Regions from separate parts of the Homo sapiens genome. Here region 2 is linked to region 1. Evidence: fine-mapped expression QTL. Tissue or cell type: whole blood. Region 1 holds a variant in brackets; the other region holds the start of a gene. All regions are shown on one strand. Distances are between the middles of the regions.

Region 1 (2,763 bases):
GCCTGCTTTGGCCTCCCAGTGTGCTGGGATTACAAGGGTGAGCCACCACACCCGGCCACCTTTTATTTTTGACCACATATTATATGACTTATTTATATGGAATGTCCAGAATAAGCAAATTTTTTGATACCAGAAGCACATGCGTGGTTATCCAGGGCTGAGGGAGGGGACTGGGGCGAATGGGGGAGGGATCTGCTAGAGAATAAAGAGCTTCTTTTGGGGGTGACGAAATGCTCTAAAATTGGTTGTGGTGATAGTTAAACAACTTTCTGGATATATTAAATGCCACTGAATTGTATACTTTAAATGGGTGAATTGTATGGTATGTTAATTGTATCTTAATAAAACCGTTACTAAAAAAATACAAGGTGCCTCTCACTAGCTGTGTGACATTGAAGAGTGATCTCACCTTTCTTAGCCTTAGTTTACTTATCTGTAAAATGATAACAGAAGCTACCTCATGAGATTGCTGTGATGTTTCAGTGGGAGGATTGTGTAACTATTGAGCATAGAAGTACTTACCTTTTAAGCATTGCTTTAACTGTATAGTTTCAGTTTTAAAATTTATTCAGTTTGTTTTTTAACCCAAGCATGTGAATTATCTTGGCAGTGGTTTTATCTGCACTTGAAAAGAATTCAGTGTATTCTGCTATTACTAGATGGAATGATATAAAAATGTCAGTTTGTTCCATTTGATATTAAACTAAATTGAAGAGTGTTCTTTGTATCTTCTGTATTTTTGTTGATTTTCTGTCTGCTTTTTCAATTTCTGAAACAGTAGTATTTAAACCTCTAATTAGGGCTGGGTGCAGTGGCTCACGCCTGTAATCCCAGCACTTGGGGAGGCCCGAGGCGTGTAGATTGGTTGAGCTCAGGAGTTCAAGACCAACATGGCAAGACCCTGTCTCTACAAAAAATACCAAAATTAGCTGCGCATGGTTGTGCACACCTGTGGTGCCAGCTTCTTGGGAGACTGAGGTGGGAGGATTGCTTGAGCTCATTGCAAGGCTGCAGTAAGCCAGCCTGGGCAACACAGTGAGATTTTATCTCAAAAAAAAAAATTTATTTTTGTAATGTGTGAGTGAGTCCTATAGGTAGAGAGAAGTTAACATTTGTATGTATGAACTGTTGCATGAAATGTACAGAAAAGTAGCAACTTCTTCAGGAAATTTTAAATGTATGGCAGGATTATAGTTTATAGAACTTACCAAATGAAGAAGAATTTCTAGGCCGGGCACGGTGGCTCACGCCTGTAATCCCAACACTTTGGGAGGCTGAGGCGGGCAGATCACCTGAGTTCAGGAGTTCGAGACCAGGCTGGCCAACATGGTGAAACACCTGGG[C/T]TGGAGTGCAATGGCGTGATCTCAACTCACTGCAACCTCCGCCTCCCGGGTTCAAGCAGTTCTCCTGCCTCAGCCTCCTGAATAGCTGAGATTACAGGTGCCCACCACCATGCCCGGCTAATTTTTGTATTTTAGTAGAGATGGGGTTTCAGCATGTTGGCCAGGCTGGTCTCAAACTCCTGACCTCATGATCTGCCCGCTTCGGCCTCCCAAAGTGCTGGGATTACAGGCGTGAGCCATGGTGCCCGGCTGCCCCAGCCTCATTTTAATTTCCAAAGCAATATCTTTTTATTTATTTAACATATACTTGTTGAAATTCTATATGTGTTAGGATTTTCCCCCCAGTAGCATGAATTATATGGTTTCCACGTGATACAGAGCATAGTGTCTAGCAACAATAGGCCTCAGTAAACATTTGTGGAATAACTCACTAAATGAATATATTACATTGATTCATCTGAAACTGTCATTTTTAGAGGTCAAAATGGTTAAATATCAGCAATTCAATATTCAACAAATATATTAATAAGAATCATTCCAGTATAAAAGTGAAAATACATATTACTCCTTGACACTGTTATCAATGTGTATAATTTTCTTTCATTAGACTACAAAACTTGACTTTTCTCTTCTTTGCCTACCAGGAAACACGAAATTATCCAGAATCATATCCACAACTGCCAAGGGATGAAACAGTGGAGAATCCTCATCTCCAGAAGCACATTTTGGAATTAGCATCCATTCTGGATGTTCGAAACGTGTTCTTTGAGAATACCATTGATGACTATTAAAACAAAAACCCTGTTGTCGAAACAAGTTTTCATTTTCCACAAATTTTAAATGGTGCAGTTTTCTAACGTGATAAGACACATAGTGGTGTTACTTAGTTTTTATTTTTTAATTTAGGGCCACCATTTTAAAAACAAACAAAAAAATGTTCACACTTTTAGGGTAACTGTTTTAAAATGCAACCTTTCAGGTCTTTTAAAATCTTAACCTTGGAATTTTTATTTTTTGATTTTGAGGGATGGATATTTACCTCCAACTTCTAATCCTACACTCAAATAGTCACTATTCTCACCCTGAGAAGAGTAAATCATTTATTTTTGTATAATGAGGTAAATCCAACTCTTATACTTGGACCTAAGTTAAATGTCTGGATTTGGAAATATGTAATGGTTCATAATGATGAAGCTAGCCACCATGGACTACTGAAAATCAAGAACAGAGTCCCTCCATAATATATTTTTTCTCATTCCAACTTAGCTGGTAGAAAAATGTTTGATCCTTTGAAACATGATCAAGCCAGTTTTTTGAAATCATTTAATTTCTTTCAATACTGTCATAATTTCAGAAATTGGATTGAATTGCATCTGAAAGCTACATCTTGATTGAGGACTTGAGGTGGTAATATTACTTG
Region 2 (2,614 bases), 240 kb before region 1:
CAGCTCCTTTTACTAATTTATTTTTGAGGAGGATCTCGCTCTGTCGCCCAAGCTGGAGTGCAGTGCCGCGATCTCAGCTCACTGCAACCTCCGCCTCCCAACTCAAGCGGTTCTCCTGCCTCAGCCTCCAGAGTAGCTGGGACCACAAGCACGCACTACCGCGCCAGGCTAATTTTGGTACTTTTTGTAGCTACAGATAGAATAGAGATCTTTGTCTATTTTGTTCACGAAGTACTGCAAGCGCCTTGAGCTGTACCTGGCACATCTTTGTTGCTCAGCAAAGAGTGGTTGGATAAACGAACGCTGAAGGTATGCTAGTACCAGGTACTGTTCTCGGTGCTGGAGTTACAGCAAAAAACTCCCTGCCCTCGTGGGATTCTCACTGGAAGCATGCTTAAGCTTAAGCCATTTTTCAATCTTGACCCCACCATTTTGTTCCCTGTGAGATTTGGGGTGAACTGCAGTTTCCTAGCCTCACTTTCCTATCAATCGTTACGAAGATTAAAAGGAAAAATATCATTTGTATCGCATTTAGCATCAGAAATGCTTTAATAATATTCGTTTCCCTTCCTTTCAGGCTGGAAGACTGGGGCCTGACATCTCTGCCACAGGCTTAGGCGAGGTTTTCACAGGGACTTGGAAAGGTGCAAACGGTTACTACGGCCAGGCTTACCCAATTGTTAAGTGAAGATATTCTGGAGAGTGCTTAAAAGGGTTGGAAAAACAAACCAGTGAGTGGCTAGGACCACCTACTCCGCTGTTTTGCCTCGGAAAAGCCTCGCCGGCTGCCGGGAGGTGAAAGTCTGGAGGAACGGGAGGAAAAGAGAGGGGTGGCTGTCCACAACAGAAAACTACACATCCCAGCACCCCCGCGGCAGACGACTACGGGTCCCAGCAGGTTTCGCGGGGTGGACCGAAGCGGGCTCTCTTGGGGCCTGCAGTCGGGGTTCAGCCAGAGGGGGCGCCGGGCGTACCGACGTAGCGGGGAGAAACGGGTCGCGCTTTAACGGCGCTGCGCAGGCGCCACTCACGGGCCGGACGTGACGCAGGGAAAGTTCCGGCTTCGGCCTCCGCCGCTGCCGCCGCCGCTGCTACAGCCGCCGCCGCCGCTGTTGCCGCGGCTTGTTATTCTTAAAATGGCGCCGCTAGACCTGGACAAGTATGTGGAAATAGCGCGGCTGTGCAAGTACCTGCCAGAGAACGACCTGAAGGTGAGCCCTATTTGCGGGCTCGCCCCTTCCGGCTGTGGGGCGCCCGCCGGCCGGCCCTTCCTTTCTCCAGGACCCCCGCCGGGTATCCAGTCCAGTCGCGGTGGAGGGCCTCCCCCATTGCCAGTCGACCCGGTCCTACCCGGCGTCACGCCGAGGGTCTCGCGAGCCGAGTCGTCGAATGCTGTCCCGGTTGCCTCAGTGGGGATCCCGAGGGATGTCGCGGCCTCTGTCCCAGGGTCGCCCCTTCTGGCCTTCGGGCTGCCCCAGGACCCGCAGCTGTAACAGCTTTATTTAGAAGGCTCGGCTCCCCACCCCATCCCTGGGTCTCCCGCAGTCGGAGCCGAGCCCCCGCGGCAGTGCCCTCGGGATGGGGTCGCCTCCACCGGAGGTGACAGGAGCGCGGAGTGGCCGGCGTCTGACAGGAGATGCCACCGGCTACCGGAACGCGGCCTCAGTGTGTTTAGGTCTCTGAGGAAGGGGAAGGCGGTGGGCCCGAGTGGTTTGGTACTGGCGGGAGCGAACGTCAGGTCGTCCCTCTTCATTGCCACTCCTCCAAATTGCTTTTTAGGATCGTCGGTTTTGCTAATTCAGAGGTGAATCCCGTTTCTGAGTATGTTGTTGAGCTTACTGAAGTGGATAAAGTAGTTGGTTCTCAATAAATACAAATACTTTCTCCTTAACCCCTTCTTAACTCAGTATTTCATTTTCTTCGTTTTCTAAAGGAGGTGAGTTCCTTGTTACTCCTGAGTCCAAGTAAGAGTAAATGTATGTATGGGTAAAGGAATGACTTTGGTATACTGCTTTTCTTTTTTAAAACTTTTTAATTATTATTATTATTATTATTATTATTGTTTTTAACTGAGATAGAGTCTCACTCTGTCACCCAGGCTGGAGTGCAGCGGTGCGATCTTGGCTCACTGCAACCTCCACTTCCCGGGTTCAAGCGATTCTCCTGCCTCAGCCTCCCGACTAGGTGGAATTACAGGCGCCCGTCACGACGCCCGGCTGTTTTGTATTTTTAGTAGAGACGGGGTTTCGCCATGTTGGCCAGGCTGGTCTTGAACTCCTGACCTCAAGTGATCCGCCCGCTTCGGCCTACCAAAGTGCTGGTATTACAGGCGTGAGCCACCGCGCCGGCCTAGGTATACTGCTTCTTTGAAAAGTGTTTCTATGCATTTGCTGAAATCAGAGCTTAGGTTTCTAGCAGTGCTTATCAGCTCGTGCTAGTATTTAACCGACTCAGTGTATTCTTTTTTTTTGAGACGGAGTCTCGCTCTGTCGCCCAGGCCGGAGTGCGGTGGCACCATCTCGGCTCACTGCAACCTCCGCCTCCCGGGTTCACGCCATTCTCCTGCCTCAGTCTCCCGAGTAGCTGGGACTACAGGTGCCCGCCACCACGCCTG

What was found. PIP is the estimated chance that this variant, and not a neighbour inherited with it, causes the effect.
Region 2: it holds the start of PPP6C, and the variant in region 1 is fine-mapped to the expression of PPP6C in whole blood (INTERVAL, PIP 0.95).

What each region holds. Positions count from the first base shown.
Region 1 is chr9:124,952,178-124,954,940 of GRCh38, reverse strand. SCAI (suppressor of cancer cell invasion) reads left to right here. Exons shown (of 18, transcript NM_001144877.3): 18 at 1,988-2,763. The coding sequence ends at 2,134. Among named protein-coding and RNA genes, the nearest start is that of GOLGA1, 12 kb to the right of the region's middle. The variant C/T (reference allele first, on the strand shown) is at 1,344.
Region 2 is chr9:125,188,241-125,190,854 of GRCh38, reverse strand. It overlaps PPP6C (protein phosphatase 6 catalytic subunit), which reads left to right and starts at 1,052. Exons shown (of 7, transcript NM_002721.5): 1 at 1,052-1,211. The coding sequence starts at 1,137. RefSeq lists enhancers at 775-854, 157-943, 944-1,730.